Linked DNA regions of Homo sapiens. The protein of the gene in region 1 purifies or fractionates together with the protein of each later gene. This does not show direct contact. Each region holds a gene or a part of one and is shown in the gene's direction. Other genes may lie near its edges.

Region 1 (7,028 bases):
TAATTAGTTAAATATGAAGAGGCATTATTTGCTTTCCCTCTCTGTTCCTCTGCTGCCTTACCCTGTTGTGGGTGTGGTGTGGTGAGATGGTGGGGACAGGTGTGCATCTTGGTGTTCCTTTCCTTTTTGGGGTCCCCTTCTCCAGAGAGAGCCATTTCCTGCCGAGTTCCTGAGTAGGATAGCATAAGGTCAGCTCTAGCTTTAAATTTCCTTTCCTGCTTTTCTTTTCTTTTCTTTTTTTTTTAAAAGTCGGAGTCTTGCTCTGTCAGCCAGGCTGGAGTACAATGGTGCTATCTTCAGCTTATTGCAACCTCCACCTCCTGGATTCAAGTAATTCTCCTGCCTCAGCCTCCCAAGTAGCTAAGATTACAGGTGCCCGCCACCACACCCAGCTAATTTTTGTATTTTTAGTAGAGATGGGGTTTCACCATATTGGCCAGGCTGGTCTCTTGGCCATGCTGGTCTTGAACTCCTGACTGCCTGCCTCAGCCTCCCAAAGTGCTGGGATTACAGGCATGAACCACTGCGCCTGGCCAATTTTTGTATTTTTTTAGTAGAGATGGGGTTTCACCATGTTGGCCAGGCTGGTCTCGAACTCCTGACCTCAGGTGATCTGCCCACCTCAGCTTCCCAAAGTGCTGGGATTCAGGCGTGAGCCACCACGCCCAGCCTCTTGCTTTTATTTCTGCATTCCCTTCCTTGTCTCTCAACAGTTTCTGGCAGTGTTCCCTGAGATTACTGGCCTACCAGAGCGATTAATTTTGTGGACTCAATGCTTCTGATTTCAGGTTATGAATTGTTCGTCTAAAACTGTCACCAGCTGGGTACAGTGGCTCATGCCTATACTCCCAGCACTTTGAAAGGCCAAGGTGGGAGGATCACTTGAGCCTAGAAGTTTGAAACCAACCTGGACAACATAGGAAGACCCCATCTCTACCAAAATAATGAGCTCAGCTGGTGGCACACACCTGTGGTCCCAGCTACTCAAGAGGCTGAGGTAGGAGGATCACTTGAGCCCATGAGCTCAAGGCTGCAGTAAGCTATGATTGCACCACTGCACTCCAGCCTGGCAACAAAGTGAGACCCTGTCTCAAGATACATATATATATGTATATATAATCATAATATAAAATTATCAAATATATAAATATGATCATATCACTTTCTCTAGAACCCAAACCATCCTCATGAATATGATGGAACAGGGCATGTACCGTGACACCTGAAGGCCTCTTGGAGCTACCCATCCGGTCCTTAAATAACTCCAGAACCATCAGCTGAAAAACTGAGAAGCCAGCCAAAAAATTAATCTGCATTATAAAGCTGGTCTGTTTGGTACTTTAAAGGAAAAATCTCTTCTATATGATCTGGCCTCCCCCACCTCTCATTTGCCTTTGTGGAAACGTAAGGTTGTCTTCATGAGTTTTGACAGCTATTTGCAACTCAGGACCTTTTTCAGTTTGACTTACACTCAGCTGTGTAAGACGGTTGAGGCTGCTGGGAATTTTTCTTCGTGATAAATGTCATGTTAATCTATCTGTGTGTCTTATACAAGAAATGCAAATCTGTTTTCTGCTTAGCAGCGGCATTGGAAAGAAGCTTGAAGACAGAGTAAAACTAATAATCCAAAAGGAACCTTTGATGTGCTGAATATACATTCAGTATTGTTCCTTTTTCATTATAGGTGGTATTTGAGATTTCATGAGCTATATAGAGAAACTTTTTTACCTCACACACCCAATACACACACACACACTCACATGTTGCCTTACATTTGAGTGTCTTTTTAGGGTTAATAGCCCTCATAGATAGAGTTGGGACATTTGCACTTTAAGTTAAATGTGCTGTTTTTAAATGCTTACAATTCAGGAAATCTTTACATCTGTCTAGCAAGGACTCAGGTGATTTTTTTTCTTTCTGTGAAATACTTTCGTTTTTTTCTTAACTTTTGGGTTATGATGAATCGAGTGGTGTTCGACATGTACGTAGAATGTTTCACCCTGGCCGGGGATTAGGAGGTCCTCGTGCTCGTAGATCAAACATGCACTTTACTAGCAGTTCTACTGGTGGACTTTCTTCTTCTCAGAGTTCATATTCTCCAAGCAATAGGGAAGCCATGGATCCTATAGCTGGTAAGTTAGTTTCACATTAATAAGGGAAATGGCAGGGGAAGGAGGAGCTCCTTTTAAAACTTTTTGTGATGCCAGGTGCGGTGGCTCACACCTTTAATCCCAGCACTCTGGGAGGCTGGAGCGGGTGGATCACTTGAGGCCAGGAATTCAAGACCAGCCTGGCCAACATGGCAAAACTCCATCTCTACTAAAAATAAAAAAATTAGCCAGATTTGGTGGTGGGTGCCTGTAATCGCAGCTACTCTGGATGCTGAGGCATGAGAATCGCTTGAGCCTGAAAGGTGGAGGTTCCAGGGAGCCGAGATCGCACCACTGCAGTCCAGCCTGGGTGATGGAGTGAGACCCTGTCTCAAAAAAAAAAAAAAAAACTTTTTGTGAGATTTGTGTTCTTAAGTCTCACCTCTCTGATCATAAGCCATGTTCCTTCACAAAATTCCCAAATACATTAAAAGTGTAAAATGTGTTAAAAGCAGACACTTAACATAAAGTAATTCATACTCTTCTGGCATTGCTTAAGTCCAGTAGTCCCCCCGTCATGTGGTTTTGCTTTCCTGGGTTTCAGTTACCCACAACCAACTACAGTCAAAAAATAGGTGAGTACAGGACAATAAGATACTTAGAGAGAGACCACATCACATAACTTTCATAGTATATTTTTAGATTTACTCTATTTTGTTGGGAATCTCATGTTCCTAATTTATAAATTAGGTGCCTAATTTATAAATTAAACTTTAGCACAACAGATAAGTATGTATAGGAAAAAACATAGTATGTATAGGGTTCTGTATTATCCAAATGCCCATTTCAGCCATTCACTGGGGGTTTTGGAACGTATCTCCTGCAGGTAAAGGGAGACTACTGTTCTTAGAGACAAAAGATGATAAGAAATGGTTTTATGTTGTATTTGTGGCCTCTATTGAAGCCCAAGGAAATCATAAAAGATTTCAACTTGAATACCTCCAAAATGTCATGGTTAAATCTCCATAAGTACACATAAAAAAATGTCCAAAGCACATTTGAAATTAAGGTTTTATAAGGTATAGCTAACATTTTTAAGAACATGTTATGTGTAAAATTCTGTCACAGATTTATGCCTATCTCAGATGTTGTGCAAGGCGCCTCATGGCTTCCAGGTACACATTCCACCACATGGACACATTTCAGAACTGTTATCTATAGCTAATTGAAAAGACTAAAGAATTAAGCTCTTCTCATGGAAGAAAGGAAAGTAGGACTTAATGTCCTGACCTTGATTTGAGAACTATATTGTTGTAGAACATACTGAAAGGTACATGTTTAATAGCTTGGGAAAAATCTTAAAAAAAAAAAAAAAAACACAGTTTTTGAACCTGGCCATGTCACTGAGTCTAGTACATGACAAACCTAGGAAGTTGGTAGCAGAACACAGGGTCAAAATAAAATACAAGAAATCACTGTAGCCTGATAATCTGCAAGACACACCAAGCAGACAAGTGGTAAGACAGTGGGAAGTGTGCACACATTTAAAGCAACAATTCTGAAATGTGTCCATGTGGTGAAGTGTGCACCTACCTGGAAGCCATGAGCACCCTGCAGAACACCTGAAACATTGATAAGTGTAAATCTGTAATAGAAACTGAGAACATCAGAGCTAAATGACAACTTAGGAACACAAAGGAGGAGACAGCAGACACTGGGGGAGGGTAGCAAGAGAGAGAGGAGCAGAAAGATAACTGTTGGGTACTGGGCTTAATTGGGTCCTGGGTGATGTAATAATATGTATGACAAACCCTCGTGGCAGGTGTTTAACTGTGTAACGGACCTTCACATGTACCCCCAAACCTAAAATAAAAATTTAAAAAAGAAAAACAACCTAAGAACAATTTTATACCTATCATGTTATTTAAAAGTTAGATATACCATATAAAATTTTAATTCCAAATGTGCTTTGGACATTTGTGTGTGCAACAACAAAAACAAGCCTAATAAACTGAGTTTGGGGGATTTAAAAAATATTTCTTCATCCAAAGGGAATATTTACCTGCTATTTTGGTGGCAGGCACTAAAAATTAAAGTAGTTTCTGGGAGCAAAATTCAAAATTGAGAAATTTTCTTCATTTGATTTTTTTTCTGTCAGTGAAAATTAGTTTATTTTAGTGATAGACTGTATATTCCATGAAAGAGTGGTATAAGAGTGCTATAAAAAGCCTGGGATAAAGCAACAGTGAGCAAGAAAACAAACTGTTAATGAGTTTTAATGATAAAGAGTTTTTGCTGGCCTGAAAGTGTCTGCAAGGCAGTCATCGATTCCCTATAAGCGAGGTGGACCCTCCACTTGGAAGAAGGCATTTCACTGTACCTTACTTAGATGAGGATGCGGGGACAAAAGTTTACACCTCTCTTAATGAGTACAGCCTTATGGACACAAGACAGTCTGGATCATAACAGGCCACTAAGTAGGCTGTACAGTCAGATGCAGCAGGTTCTCAGGAGCCAGTCAGCCTTGCTGAGCACTGGTAGTGGTATCTACTGCAGTGGTACTCTGAAACAGCAGTACCAGAAGGTACTAGAGGGAGAAAGCAGAGGCAGAGAGTGTGCAAGGGCCACCATCAGAAATGATCCAGGCCTCTTGGACTGAATCCTAATAATTCATTCAGTCATTCAGTAAATGTTTGAATTCCTGCTATATCAGGCCCTGTTCTGATAGCTGGGAATATAGTCAACAGTAGACCTCATCCCTGCTTCCATGGAACACATATTGAGAGAGCTTATATTATAATTGGGCCCACAGATAAACCACTTCATTAAATACTAAGAGAAAGCTTCACTAAATTAGTCTATTATGCAAATAATTTTAAAGACAATTTAAGTTTTACTTCAAACATAATTCAGTCTGGGTTAATATTCGTATGCATTTGCATTCTCTGTCCACAGTAACTCCTGCCTTCAGGAGGCATTCTAGAAGGATTCAGCTCTTAAACTGTGTGCTGTGGTGGTTACCTACCTGTTCACAATGCTTTTGATGTTGTTCCAGTAAAAGAGTGATCTGTAGCGTTTTGTTTTCCTCAGTATTAAGCAGACATTAATTGTCTTCATTTCCATTGGCAGAGCTTTTATCTCAGTTATCAGGAGTGAGACGTTCTGCAGGAGGACAGCTTAATTCCTCTGGCCCTTCCGCTTCTCAGTTACAACAACTGCAGATGCAGCTGCAGCTAGAACGGCAGCATGCCCAGGCAGCACGGCAACAACTGGAGACCGCACGCAACGCAACCCGGCGTACTAACACAAGCAGTGTCACCACTACAATCACACAATCCACAGCAACAACCAACATAGCTAATACAGAAAGCAGTCAGCAGACTCTACAGAATTCCCAGTTTCTTTTAACAAGGTAGCTCATTTGTTAATAGAATTTTGTTTGGGAAGTAATATTTTATTGCCACTACAGTCTGGAATTATCTTTTCTCTTTTGTGCATTATATTTCTTTAAAATTTTGTGTTTGATTAAAACTCACAGATCTCTGATTAAAACGCATATTCAGTATTTCCCCAAGAATGTGAAACATAGTAATTATTTTAGATAAATTAAGAATACTGGGCCAGACCCAGTGGCTCACACCTGTAATCCCAGCACCTCACACCTGTAATCCCAGCACTTTGGGAGGCCAAGGCAAGCAGATCGCCAGAGCCCAGGAGTTCCAAACCACCCTGGGTAACATGATGAAATCTTATCTCTACAAAAATGAGCCAGGTGTGATGGTGCGCACCTGTAGTCCCCGCTACTCAGGAGGCTGAGGTGGGAGGATCGCTTGAGCCCTGGAGACAGAGGTTGCAGTAGCCAAGATTGCACCATGCACTCCAGCCTGGGTGACAAGAGTGAGACCCTGTCTCTAAAATAAAATAACTGGTCTTGTTCTCAAGGTATATATCATCATATAATATGAATTGTTTTGCCATAGTACCCATAAAACTTAAACACTATATCATTATATATATATGGTTCATATTAGGTGTATTTATCATAATTAACGTTGCTTGTTATTGCCAGTTTTAATCTGCTTTGAAATATTAAAAGTATAAGAAGGATTTCATAATACAGTGGCAGTTTTCTCCTGTGAATTTCTAAAAAAGCTAGATTTAAATTTTTATGGTTGGCACACAAAAGTAACTTAAAAAAATGGCTTCCTATGGTATAAATAATATTTAGTAAAACAGTAAACTACTCTACTAGATGGAGTTCTTGTTTGCTTCTGAAACTGTTAGCAACTGCATGTATTTGTCTGCCAAAACTTCACAGGCATTTTATGTGACTTTTAGGAATATAAAGAATTCTTAAAAGAGCAATGATGAGTGGAGACTTAGCCTCAACAGATAATGAACCTGGACTAATTGGGCTTTTAAGGGAGCAGAGAGGAACATAAAGGAAGAACTGTAAAATGAAGAATAAAGTTTGTGTAATACATGATTATTTCCAAAATGCAGTGTGTATGACAATTCATTGGGATGTTAGAGGAAAATATTATAATTTCTACTTATGTTTCTTTTATCTCATACTCTGTTAATACAGTGGTGCATGTGTATAGTTATAAATAACATATTGTGGGTGCAGAATAAAAAATGCTTGAAAATCCCTGGGCTAGAGCCCCAGCTTTGCCAATTACAAGTTTTGGACCTCAGGCAAGTCATTTCACTCCTCCAAACCTCAATTTTATCATCAGTATCCCAGAAGTTTTGCCTTTAGAGAGATAATTATTTTGAGGATTAAATGGAATACTGGTATGTGTATGGTCTGGCTCACTATCTGGCCTATAGTAAAGGTCCAATTAATGGTACTCGTTATCAACATTTGTTATGAAACCAAGAAAAACATTTTAAATGGGTAATTTACCTTTGAATTATCTCTGCAAGGTCAGTAAC
Region 2 (7,028 bases), on another chromosome or scaffold:
GGTGGTTGGGGATGTCTTAGAATTTTTTTTTTGGCTTATATCACATAACATAAAATTTAATTTTATGTGTGTGCAATTCAGAGGTTTTTAATATATTGGCAAGGTTGTGCAGTCAGTCACCACTATCTAATCTCAGAACATTTTGATCACCCTGAAAAGAAACCCGGTATCCATTAGCAGTCCCTTCCTATTCTCCTACCCTCCCTCCTCTCAGTCCTTTGCAATCACTAATCTGTGTCTCTATGGATTTGCCTATTCTGACATTTCATATAAATAGGATCAAGCCTTTTGTTTGGCTTCTTTGACTTTGCATGTCTTCAGTGTTCATCCATGTTGTCACATGTATCAGTACTTCCTTTTATTGCTGAATAATACTCTGTTTTTTGGATATACCACATTTTATGTATCCATTCATTAGCTCATGGACGTTTGTGTTGTTTCCACTTTTTGGCTATTGTAAATAATGCTGCTACGAACATTCTTATTGAAGCTTTTGTGTAAACCTGTGTTTTCATTTCTCTTGGGTGTATACTTCAGTGTGGAATTGCTGAGTCATAGGGTAACTCGGAGTTCTCCTTCTGTCACCGTATTTTCAACTTGTCTGAATTTAGAAACACCTTAGAATCCAGTGCGCCTACCATTTTGTTATCCTTTAAAGAAAGGAGTGAAGAAAAGGATTTTGATATTGACAAGAAAGGAAATCACTAGTAAGGAGGTAATCTAATCATTCTATGTCATCATTTAACTCACTGAATCATACTTGCCATAAACTAAAGCTTTTATTACTGAACAAAGCTTCCCTCACCCAGTATGTGAAGAACTGGAATTGTGGAGGATGATACCCTTTCTATTGTAGATGCAGTGAATTAATAAGGGTTTGGGTTGTTATGTACTTTAGTGACCTCTATAGTATTCTCTTAGTAACAAGAGAATACTATAGAGGTCACTAAAGTACATTAGAGAAATAGTACCATATAGTCTTTTTTCTCCAGAGTGATAGAATTATGTTCTGTGAATTGTCCCAAACTCTTTTTTTTTTTTTTTTGAGACGGAGTCTTGCTCTGTCGCCCAGGCTGGAGTGCAATGGCGCGATCTTGGCTCACTGCAGCCTCCGCCTCCATGGTCCAAGCGATTCTCCTGCCTCAGCCTCCCAAGTAGCTGGGATTACAGGCGCCTGCCACCATGCCTGGCTAATTTTTGTATTTTTAGTAGAGACGGGGTTTCACCATGTTGGCTGGTCTCGAACTCCTGACCTCAGGTGATCCGCCTGCCTCGGCCTCCCAAAGTGCTGGGATTACAGGCGTGAGCCACTGAGCCCGGCCGAATTGTCCCAAACTCTTTTGGGGCTTTTATAAATTTAGAGTTTCTGAGTTGATACTCCTTGATCTTCCATGGGCTGTACAGTGCTACTTTTGTTGATGTAAATTGCCAAGTAATAACAGCACTTAGTATGTGTCAGGAACTGTTGTAAGTTAATTATAAGTGAATTAACATGAATTAGGTTGTGTTGTTATCCTCATTTTTATATGAAGAAAATGAGGAACAGAGATACTAAGAAATTTGCCCAAGGTTACACAGCTAATAAATTGATAACTTAATGTTTAGTGGGTTCAAGTGTATTTGTTTAGACTTCAAATCCACTTCTGCTGAATTCTCAGCACCTACCCCTAGTGTACTGTAAATATAAATATTTTAAGGAGTGAGAACATGGGACGAGAACTTCACGTTCCTAGCTCAGGATTGGAGTTCTACTTATGAGCAAGAATTCTTTCCCATCTTTTTACATCGTATGACTGACTTTAATTACTGGAAGAATTGAGGAATTTGTTTTGTGTTAATCATAATTGATGCTGTAATACTTCACTGTTGGTTTAGTTCTTTAGTTCTTTATCCACCTCGTCCTGTCATCAGGTCCCCATGGCTAAGAAGATTCATGGTAAAGTTTGTTAATTAAAAGTAATATTTTTAAATTTTATAAAAATCAGAAGGGTTCTAGGACCGTATGGAATCTGTATTGGTAATCTCTGGTTCTAGGTTTTCTATACTGGATTTGGGAAGAGAAGTAGAGTGGAGTATTGGGATTTACTTTGTCTTAAAAATATCCTTAGAAGTAAAACATGTAAAAACATATTTACTCCTAAATATCCTTAGGAATATAACATTTAGAATACTGGAATATTCTTTTTTATTTTTTTTGAGATGGAGTCTTGCTCAGTTGCCCAGGCTGGAGTGCAGTGGTGTGATCTTGGCTCACTGAAACCTCTGCCTCCCGGGTTCAAGCAATCCTTGTGCCTCAGCCTCCCAAGTAGCTGGGACTACAGATGTGTGCCACCATGCCCGGCCAATTTTTGTGTTTTTAGTAGAAATGGGGTTTCCCCATGTTGGTCAGGCTGGTCTCGAACTCCTGACCTCAGTTGATCTGCCCGCCTTGGCCTCCCAAAGTGCTGGGATTACAGGTGTGAGCCACTGTGCCTGGCCAAATACTTGAATATTCTATATGGTTTTGACAGTTTCAGTTGAATGGGAACTGAGTTGCGGGGAATTAAAGATACTTCAGAGAACTGACTGGTTATTCCTTCATTCTACAGTTGGCTTAAATAACTGTGATTGATGGCCATGCAGGAGAAATATCCAACTGAGGGGATCTCTCACGTCACTTCACCGAGTGAGTAGTCAGAAGTTTTCTGGGTTAAATTCTGACCTTTGTTCTGTTTTTTCATATTCCTTAAGGTAAATATTGAACAAACAAGCATTCACTGAAATGCTGGTGCTAAAAGAATAAAAATAACATGGGGCTTCATTGAATATAAAAACAGGTCTCTGAGGGAACAAGTATTTATCTCTTGTGCTATGTGGCTTTCAACAGGACCACGTGGTTGGGAGAGGACGACATATAAAGGATTGGAACAGAATGACTTTGGAACATAGTTCCATTTGAAATCAGAAAAACACAGCATAAATTACTGTGTTCTATGTTGTCTTTGTCCTCTGGGTGGGTCAGTCATCTGCTAGCCCACAAAAATAGGAATTCTGCTTGGATGCCAACAGATTCCGTTGCATTGTTACTAGAAACTCAGGAATTTATCTTCAGAATGGATTAACAAGATTTTGAAACTTCAGTAGATATATTAAATATATACAGTCCTTAAGTGTCCATGGCGGACTGGTTCCAAGACCTCCTGCAGATAGCAAAATCCACAGATACTCAAGTCCCTGATATAAAATGGTGTGGTATTTGCATATAACCTGTGTATATCCTAATGTTTACCTTAAATCGTCTCTAGATTACTTGTAATACCCAATGCAATGTAAATGCTATGTAAATAGTTATACTGTATTGTTTGGGGAATAAGAAGAAAAACAAGTCTTATGCACATTCAGTAAGATACCATTAAAAAAAAAAATTGGTTGAATTCACAAACGTAGAAACCACGGATATGGCCAGGCGCTGTGGCTCATGCCTGTAATCCCAGCACTTTGGGAGCCCAAGGCGGGTGGATCACCTGAGGTCAGGAGTTTGAGACCAGCCTGGCCAACATGGTAAAACTCCATGTCTACTAAAAATACAAAAATTAGCCGGGTGCAGTGGCATGTGCCTATAATAATCCCAGCTACTTGGGAGGCTGAGGCAGGAGAATCACTTGAACACGGGAAGCAGAGGTTGAGGTGAGCTGAGATGACGCCACTGCACTCCAGCCTGGGCAACAGAGTGAGACTGTGTCTCAAAAAAAAAAAGGGGAAAAAAAAGAAACCATGGATATGGAGAGCTGACTGTATATTAAACACATAAATATATGTATGCACTGTGCAGGCATATTAAGTAGATAATATATATTTCAAATAAGTAATATTTTAGAAAAATGACTTGTTGAATTCTGGGGTATTGGTAAAGAAGAGGGCACGTTTAATTCAACTCAGGGTATGTTTTATTTAACTTTAAAATCTCACAGTGCCTTACTCAGCGTAGATATTTGGTAAATGTTTGGTGTATTCTCTTAGGCATGCTGCCTTGCATAGAGTAGGCACCATTATAAGCTTTGGTTGAATCAATTCAAGATTCATTCAGCAGAATTTTTTTTTTTTTTTTGAAATGGAGTCTCGCTCTGTCACCCAGGCTAGAGTGCAGTGGCGTGATCTCGGCTCACTACAAGCTCCGCTTCCCGGGTTCATGCCATTCTCCTGCCTCAGCCTCCCAAGTAGCTGGGACTACAGGTGCCCGCCACCATGCCCAGCTAATTTTTTTGCATTTTTTAATAGAGACGGGGTTTCACCATGTTAGCCAGGATGGTCTCAATCTCCTGACCTTGTGATCTGCCCGCCTGGGCCTCGCAAAGTGCTGGGATTACAGGCGTGAGCCACTGCACCCGGCCTCAGGAAATATTTTTTAAACATCTGCTATGTGCTGCACATTCTCTTAGGTTTGTACAGTTTCTATGACAATTATGTATATAATGCAAGTTTTTGGAACAATGCCTTTCCTATGGCTTTTTTCTCTCTTCAATAGTATCTCATTCAGATTAATAATGGTCTTAATAATTGATAAGGATGCTACTGATAGGACATGCACTATAACACAAAAAATTTCAGCTTTTCTTTTTTTTTTTTGGAGACGGAGTCTTGTTCTGTGGCCCAGGCTGGAGTGCAGTGGCACAATCTCAGCTCACTGCAACTTCTGTCTCCTGGGTTTAAGTGATTCTTGTGCCTCAGCCTCCCAAGTAGCTGGGATTACAGGCATGCACCACCACACCTGGCTAATTTTTTTGTATTTTTAGTAGAGACGGGTTTCGCCATATGCCCAGGCTGGTCTCCAACTCCTGAGCTCAGGTAATCTGCCCACCCCCGCCTCCCAAAGTGCTAGGATTACAGGCATGAGCCACTGCACCCGGCCAACTTCAGCATTTAAACTTCAATTTTGAAATAAGTGTAAACCTCTATAAATATACCAAAATATATTTTTAACAAATAACTCTTTGGAATTAGGGTATGGAGTAGGTGGATGGAAAAATGGTAGCGATGAAGAGTGGAAGATTAGTAGTAGTAACAGGGAAGCGGTTTCCAGTAGGAAGTCAGGAAGATGGTAATAGAGGCCCTCAATCTTAACTGTTTCAAAAGGCCTGGCAAATTTTACACTGACTAGAGAGAAAAAGCTGTGTAGACTCACCAGAAGGTGGGATTTCTTTGCTTTGGGCTAGAATTACACCAACTTAGTATAGTAGCATTGGCTAATCTCATGCCGCTCAGAAACTCGGATTGTTGCCTGTGTCTTCTATAACAATTACAGATTACTGAGTGTATAAAGATTCTTTCAAATCAGGCAGTCACTGTGATCCAAAGAATAGAAGAAGTATTTGGGGAAAGTCAGGTTGCCTTCAGTAGAAAGCCAAAGTAAGGGTAGCAAAAAATGAGCAAAAGTAGAAGAAAATAGATTAAAAAGATGAGAGAAGCACTAAACTTGGAAGAAAGGAATAAAGTAATTTGTGTCCAAATTACTTTGGGCGTAATCATTTAGTGGGAGCAATCATTTGCCTCCCACTAGATCAGCGAGTCTGTAGAACCGTATTTTCTGAAATCGGCTTTCACACTTTAAGTTAAATGGAGGATAAGTAGCTGCCATTAGTTTTTTTGTTTGTTTGTTTATTTGTTTACATGGATCACCAGATACACCTTAGGAAAATTATAGTGGTTTTTAGAAAATAAATTTAAGTCTTTGCTAGAATGTTAGTGAATCAAGTATTTATTGAACACTTCCTACCTACCTCCCCCCAAACAGCATATTTTAAATCAAATAAATCTCATCAGTCTTTTTGTCTTAACCTTCTCAGCAGTTTTAGTGATATCTTCACGTTGCTCTCAAGATAAAGCCCTAGGCTCTTCAGATTGACTTTCAAAACTCACCTTGATCTCAATAGGATTCACCTATTGAGGGTACCCTGGTTCAGTGAAGCAGTGATTTTCTTTTTTTTTTTTTTTTTTTCTGAGATGGGGTTTCGCTCTTGTTGCCTAGGCTGGAGTGCAGTGGCGCAATCTTTGCTCACTGCAACCTCGAAGCAATGATTTTCAACTGGGGACTGGACTGCTTGTTGCCCTAGGAATCATTTGGAACTATATGGTTATTTTCTGGTTTCACAGTGATGGTGGTCTTGGTTGAGGGTTGCTGCTGGCATTCAGTGAGTGGGAACCAGGGATGCTAAACCATTCTGTAATGTATAGACTACACATTGAAGAATGGTCATCCCCAGAATGCCAAAAGCACCATTGAGAAACTGTAAGAAAGAGGAAAGAATGTGGGTTTTGGAATCAGAAAGAACTGGATTCAAATATCAGCCCTCCCCTCTGTAAAATAGGGGTGGTAATACTTTTCAGTAAGTAGGTAGGCAAGATTATGTTTGTAAGGTCCTGTGGCTTTACAGGTTTCAATAAATGGCCACTGCTATTAAATATGATTGTTTTCTGTTCCAGTACTCCTGGATTCTTCATGGGTCTTATTAACATCTTTGAATATTCTCACTTCTCATACTATTTCCACTTAAAATTAACTAGCTCAGGCTTGGCGCAGTGGCTCACACCTGTAATCCCAGCACTTTGGGAGGCCAAGGCGGGTGGATTATGAGATCAGGAGTTCAAGACCAGCCTGGCCAAGATGGTGAAACCGCGTCTCTACTAAAAATATAAAAATTAACTGGGCGTGGTGGTGGGCGCCTGTAATCCCAGCTACTCGGGAGGCTAAGGCAGAGAATTGCTTGAACCCAGGAGGTGGAGGCTGCAGTGAGCTGCGCGCCACTGCACTCAAGCCTGGGTGACAGAGCAGACTCCGTCTCAAAAAAAAAAAAAAAAAAAAAAAAAACTAGATCGGAGCAGCTGAAATAGGCACAGGAGAGAGAAAGGGGTGGGTTGCTGCTATTCTCTTAGGTTTATGTGATTTTTTAAAAAAAGATCTGATGGGGTTACATCAGCTGGTTCACAGTAAAGGTGGGAAATGCCTCTTGTTTCAGGTTCCGATGTGATTCAGAAGGGCAGTTCCCTGGGGA
Region 3 (7,028 bases), on another chromosome or scaffold:
GGCCCTTGAGCCACTTGCTCAGGCCCACTCCTACCCTGTGGAGTGTGCTTTCATTTTCAATAGATCTCTGCTTTTGTTACTTCATTCTTTCCTTGCTTTGTGCATTTTGTCCAGTTCTTTGTTCAAACACCAAGAACCTGGACACCCTCCATCAGTAACATATTGAGAATTGACAACAGAAGTACAAACATGAGTAATGAGTCTATGAGTGTCCCTTGTACCAGATTCAGATTAGGTTTTAACACAATATAATGAATCCTGTCTTCTCAAGATATTTACATTTGTCTTATCTTCTTCAGATGTGCTCATCTTTTGCTACGGGACCCAGACAATACGATGGAATATTCTATGAATTTCGTTCTTATTACCTTAAGCCCTCAAAGATGAATGAGTTCCTGGAAAATTTTGAGAAAAACGCTCATCTTCGGACAGCTCACTCTGAATTGGTTGGATACTGGAGTGTAGAATTTGGAGGCAGAATGAATACAGTGTTTCATATTTGGAAGTATGGTAAAGAGTCATCCAATTTTGGCTTTCAGTATAGATTTTCATTTTTCAGTATAGATTTTCATTCTGTTAAATGTAACATAAAACTTAGTTCTTGGATGTATATTATTTTAGATACATACAGGTTAACTAAGACTTTTGAAAAGCAATACCAAAAAAATAAATTCAGTTCTTATTCTTCCCAGTGGTACACCTCTAACCCCTTGCTTAAACATTACATTATATTACATTATAAATTGGAAGACATGGCATCTCATATATCAAGCGATAAAATTGTGAACTAGACTTTAAACCTCAGAAAAATATTAAAATGGTTTGCTGTAAAGATAGTTCATGAAAAATTTAAAGCAGCAATTGTAAAAGTCCAAGTGGATTAAGATCACAAAAGGAAAGGAGAAGTATCTTTTCTCTTTTTGAAGCTAGGGGGCTGGATATCAGTATTTTAGCAGAAATAATTCAACCATTTAAGGGACTTCACAATATGGAGGTTTATAGGGGATGATGGTTAACTTTCAATCCTCACTGAACTCTGAGATTTAATAATTCTGTTATGTTTAGAGACCACATTTGTTTCATATCTGTACCCCCAGAGTTTTGAGGAATTCACTGTCATACTACTCTAGGGAGGTAAAAGAAAAGGAATGAAAGAGAGTTCTTCCCGTGTTGAAACTAACCTACGCCTGGTTTAGTAGAGGAAGGAGAATAAGTTACAAGAATGCCCAGAATGCTTGTTACTCCAGTGTCTACATCAGGACTTGATGATACCTAAAGAATTTTTAATAATTTCATTTAGTGTTTGGTTTAGGGTTTTTCCCTGTTAATAGAAAAAGCCCCATTAAAATACATTTTATGCTTTAGATGTGGTACAAGTTGTATCACAGCCCATTAAAAAAACTAAGTTCTGATATACCTCACTTAAGTTGTAAGATAGGTATTCTTCCTTATCCCAATGTAAACCATATGAACCTCTCTTGCCATTAGTCTTATGAGGTCCTAATGGTAATTATAGTACTAGGCCCATATGTTGGCAAATGTATATAACTGTTTGGGTAACTTAAATAGAAGAGAAATAAGTGCTGGGGAGAAAGAATGGATGACAATAAGAGAATCAGCATTATTTCTTTGAAATCTGTTTGTTCAAAGGAGAAGAGGCTTAAAAAGTACGGTTTAACTTCACTCATGTTAAATTTGATTCAAGATGTTTTAACTTCACTCATGTTAAATTTGATTCAGGGTGTATCTGAACTTGACTACCCACCACCACCAAAGAAAAACAGTCTTTCTCTAAACTAGCACTATAAGTTAAATGCCTCAATCAAGTAAGAATAGTTCACATATACTGAGTATTAACTAGTGCCAACCGCTATATTCTAAACTCTTTTCATGTGTTAATTTAATCCTCATACAACCCTGGAGGTAGATGTCTTATTATCTCAATTTCACAGAAAGTGAGGCACAGAAAGATTCAATAACTTACCTAATTCACAAAACTGCCTACTATATGGTTGAGCCTATAAAGCCTATTATGTGGCATTACAGTTAGTTTGCATTTCTACTGCCCTTTTTGTCCTTGAGCAACTTCAGGGCAGATGGTCACATCTGTTTACGTTGGTGTCTCCAAAGGCCTAACACAAGGTTCTTATATGGCATCAATGACCATTGCTGATGTGAATGAAACCCAGAAAAGTACAGGTGATTTAAAATTGAATTTTTTATTTTTCTTAATTCTTTTCTTCCCACAGATAATTTTGCTCATCGAACTGAAGTTCGGAAAGCCTTGGCCAAAGATAAGGAATGGCAAGAACAATTCCTCATTCCAAATTTGGCTCTCATTGATAAACAAGAGAGTGAGATTACTTATCTGGTACCATGGTGCAAATTAGAAAAACCTCCAAAAGAAGGTAAGTCCTTCCTTCTTAGTCACTGAGTTTTGATGAATAAAATACTAAAGAACTTAAGTGATCAAAACTGAAGTTCCTTTGGAAAAAAATAAAATTAATTCTTTGTTTTATATAGAAACATACAGTGATTGTTGTGGTAAAAATAAATGGGAGCTCTTACCCCATCCTTTAAAAAAATGAGCATAAAATAATGAGATATTTTTCAAATTGAGACCTTGCAGATTTGTAAAGCTTAACTGTGTTATAGAGAAAGCTGACATGGTCAGTAGAGGTTGAGAATTTGTGCATTGGGAGCAGAGAACGTGTTGATAGGTAAGGGATAGCATAAGAAGTTTTGCCATAATTTTAAAATAATATGATCTTTAAAATGTAAAAGTATTTCCATAAATTATAACTAATCTTAAATCATTAAATACAGCTTTGCTTATAAAACTGAGTATTTGGGGGAAACAGATTAAGTGAAACTGCCAAGCTATATTACTTTAATCTAACTTTTGTGTCTTCTTTCTTGTTTCTCAGTTTGAAAGTAATTGCTTAAGATTTGTCTTCTTGCTGATTTCACTTCTTGCTGACTTAAAGAAACTATTACCTCAATCCAGTTTTAAATAAAGGTCAGATTAGAAAAGCATAAACTTATTTAAATGTTATTTTACTTCCCCCATTATTCCCAACTTTGTAGTGTATTTAGGTTACAAAAAATTTACAAAGTCTTCCTTGGATCTTTACCTACTTAGGTGTCCCCTCAGCTCTCAGCACTATCTAAATAAAATAGTTCACTTCTCTGACAGTGTCAAATCTTGGTTCTCCTCCTCTGTGTACATCACTGCTTGGAAATTTTTACATGCTTTTCCTACTTGTCCCAGAGTTTCTTTCTCTCCACCAGCCCTATACTTCTGTCCAAAGTGTACAATACTTTTCAAGTATTTACCTGGATATTTAGGAAAAATAAAACCATCTCTTTAGGTTTGTCTTTTTTCCTCCAAAATTCAAAGATATCACTTCAGGTCCACTCTTTGCTTTGCTGTTCCTGTTAAAAATGGAAACTTATAGGGAGAAATTATATGAAGAAAAACATAGTGGAAATTGGAAAGAATGAAAATATAGATTGGAAAATTCTTCTTTTATTCTTTTATTTTCTAAAAGCATAGACTTTTGCAGCTCAAAATTCTATATCATTATACATTCTCAACAGTTTTTTAACAAATGTTATAGATTAAAAATATTTCAGATAATAGTTATAATAGCTTCCAGTTCTTTTTCTTTGTCATCTGTATGATTAAGCATAACAACTCACTCTTAAACATGGGCAAGGACTTTCTAAGCATAAAAGCAGAGAGTGCAAATATAATAAACATGTCTACATAATATGTATGCATGTCTGATCCTCCAAATCTGTGTGTGTAGATAGTGAAAGACTATTCACTGAGAAACGTGATTGGATATTGCTTGAATGTTTTCTGAAAAATTCTTTTTCTCCCTATTCCAGGAGTCTATGAACTGGCCACTTTTCAGATGAAACCTGGTGGGCCAGCTCTGTGGGGTGATGCATTTAAAAGGGCAGTTCATGCTCATGTCAATCTAGGCTACACAAAACTAGTTGGAGTGTTCCACACAGAGTACGGAGCACTCAACAGAGGTACAATTGTCCATTTCTTCTTATATGAAATTGTAATATATATTGTGACCTAAGTTCCTTGGGTCAGGTTCTTTCTCATTATAGAGTATGTTTTATTATTTATTGCCAAATGTTTAGTTTTTTGTAATTTTTAAAATTGAGAAAATCTGTTTTACATCTTATTTATTTAGAATGTTAACTTATGAAACCTTCAAATGCTGAATAGCTGTTTTCCCTGATACATCAAAATGATTAAATTTTTTAAACTGAAGGAACCTCGGCTGGGCACGGTAGCTCAGGCCTGTAATCCCAGCACTTTTGGAGGCTGAGGGGGTGGATCACCTGAGGTCAGGAGTTCGAGACCAGCCTGGCAAACATGGTGAAACCCCGTCTCTAGTAAAAATAGAACAAATTAGCCAGGCATGGTGGTGGGGGCCTGTAATCCCAGCTATTCTGGAGGCTGAGGCAGGAGAATCACTTGAATCCAGGAAGCGGAGGTTGCAATGAGCCAAAATCGTGCCATCGCACTCCAGCCTGGGTGACAAGAGCAAAACTCCATCTCAAAAAAAAAAAAATGAAGGAACCTCAAGAAATAGTCTGTTACTTTCATCATTTCTTTTTCCTCTGAATGTACTTTTATTGATTTTTTAAAAATAATATTATTTGGGGTAGGGAGATTATCTCTAAGCAAAAAAGTAATATATGTTTTGTATAAATATGAAAACCCCCCTCATAAAAATTTACCCATTTTCCACCAGTTTTATATATATCTATATAGGGAGATATAGTAAATATGTATATATATTGAGGTAAATTTATATATGGATATAAATTTATTTAATAAAACACATACTTGGGGTATTTAACTTGTAATGTTGAAAAACATTTCAATCAGAATTTCAAGATTTTTTGTGGCAAATTCAGAAAAACATTTGTAAAGTTTATCTGAAAGGATAAAAGAGCTGATGAGGTAGCTCATACCTGTAATTCCAGCGCTTTTGGGAGGCTGAGGCTGGTGGATTGCTTAAGCCCAGGAGTTCACGACTAGCCTGGGCAACACAGCTTGTCTCTACAAAAAAAATTTTAAGAATTAGTTGGGCATGGTGGCAAACACCTGTAGTCCTAGCTACTTGGGAGGCTGAGGTGGGAGGATTGCTTGAGCCAGGAGTTCAAGGCTACAGTAAGCTATGATTGCACCACTGCACTCCAACCCCTGAACGACATAGTGAGACCCTGTCTCTTAAAAAAAAAAAGTAACGAAGAAAGGATAAATGTCTAAGAATAGCTAACAAATATTTGAAAGACTCATCATAATATCCTGTTGCCTTTCTATTATCTCTTTATGTCCAATGGACATCTCAAACCTAATATACCCATCTTTATGCAGAAATTCAACTTCTTGTAATAATCTATCATAAGAAAATAGAATATATAAAAACAGATGTATATTCAGGTTGGAAAATACATGGAGGAGAAACTGTTATGAAAATTATTAGATGCCTATCTCACACCATATGCGAAAATAAAGTCAAGCTGGATTGTATATTTTAATGAAAAAAATTTAATTCATAAAATTGGTAAAACAAAATGTAGATGAATTTATTTAATAATGTGGATTGGGACTATATTTGTAAGCCAAAAGCAAATGAAGAAACTATGAAGAAAAAAAAATCAACTTATGATTTTATTATACAAAGGCTCAAACTATCTGGATGCCTGAAAATCACCATAAATGAAATTCAAAAGCAAAAATAAAAATAAAAATTTATGCAAAAGTAGACATGCACATGGCTACTAAATATATATTAAAGAAAATGCATATTAAAACAATAATGAGATGCCATTTCTTTACCTTATAAAAGGTATACTTACATGGATATAGTATTAGGTCAGGAAAAAATAAGTACTCAGATACTGTGTAGGGTTCATATTAGCTTAATCTTCCCCCAAAATTTGACAATAAAAATAAAAGCCTTATTTTTATTGTTTTTGCCAGTATTACTTCTAGAAAATATGCCTGGGTGTGTATGTGTATAGGTGTGCTAAATTATACAGAAAAGAAATTTGAAAGTATATAACATACATAGTAGTCATATTTCAGTGAGATAAATGGTTAAGTCTCTATGTTAATATTCTTTTTTTTTTTTTTTTTTTGAGATGGAGCCTCGCTCTGTGGAGTGCAGGTACGATCTCAGCTCCCTGCAACCTCCGCCTCCTTGGTTCAGGCGGTTCTCCTGCCTCAGCCTCCCAAGTAGCTGGGATTACAGCTGTGTGCCACCATGCCCAGCTAATTTTTGTATTTTTAGTAGAGACAGGATTTCACCAGGCTGGTCTCAAACTCCTGACCACAGGTGATCCGCCCGCCTCGGCCTCCCAAAGTGGTGGGATAAGAGGCCTGAGCCACTACACCTAGCCTCTACCTTAATTTTCTATACTGCACATATTAAGTTTTATTTTTTTAAAAACTACAGAAAATGTGTGTTCATACACTTTTTAATCTTAAATTCATTCTCAGTGTTAGGAGAATTGGTAATCAGTACATCATTTCTGGAGGACAGTGTATACTATATACACTATATGTAAGTACATATATATAAGACATGCTCTTTGGTTCTGTCAACTTAAATTCTACTTTATATTAAGGAAATAATCAGATTCAGACTGCCTGGGTTTGAATCCCAGGTACACTACTTACTTTTTGACTTTGGGTAAGTAAACCTCACCATACCTTAGTTTTTTCATCTATAAAATGATAGATTATTATGAGGACCTAGATTATTATGAGGATTAAATGAGTTAATACATTAAAATGCTTAAAACTAGGCCTGACACATAGTTATCATTCAATAAATGTCAGTAGTTGTCATCGAAAGTATTATTATAAACACATAGTTGTGCTCAAATGAAGTTTATGTTAATATTGTTTACATTAAAGAAACATTGGAAATGTAGTATGACCTTCTTTATGTAATACATACGTAATACAGAAATCGATATACATGTAC

The links.
Region 2: the proteins of KCMF1 (region 1) and CEP85 purify together in Homo sapiens (affinity purification with mass spectrometry; 4 studies listed by BioGRID and IntAct, with this or other methods). This does not show direct contact.
Region 3: the proteins of KCMF1 (region 1) and NIPSNAP3A purify together in Homo sapiens (affinity purification with mass spectrometry; 6 studies listed by BioGRID and IntAct, with this or other methods). This does not show direct contact.

What each region holds. Positions count from the first base shown.
Region 1 is NC_000002.12:85,044,147-85,051,174, forward strand, and holds part of KCMF1 (E3 ubiquitin-protein ligase KCMF1), read left to right. Parts: intron 1-1,957; coding exon 1,958-2,132; intron 2,133-5,219; coding exon 5,220-5,502; intron 5,503-7,028. UniProt on the Homo sapiens protein: E3 ubiquitin-protein ligase which accepts ubiquitin from an E2 ubiquitin-conjugating enzyme and then transfers it to targeted substrates, promoting their degradation by the proteasome.
Region 2 is NC_000001.11:26,237,174-26,244,201, forward strand, and holds part of CEP85 (centrosomal protein of 85 kDa), read left to right. Parts: intron 1-537; exon of another isoform or gene 538-715; intron 716-2,588; 5' UTR 2,589-2,610; coding exon 2,611-2,665; intron 2,666-6,992; coding exon 6,993-7,028. UniProt on the Homo sapiens protein: Acts as a regulator of centriole duplication through a direct interaction with STIL, a key factor involved in the early steps of centriole formation.
Region 3 is NC_000009.12:104,750,657-104,757,684, forward strand, and holds part of NIPSNAP3A (protein NipSnap homolog 3A), read left to right. Parts: intron 1-299; coding exon 300-510; intron 511-2,249; coding exon 2,250-2,408; intron 2,409-3,894; coding exon 3,895-4,044; intron 4,045-7,028.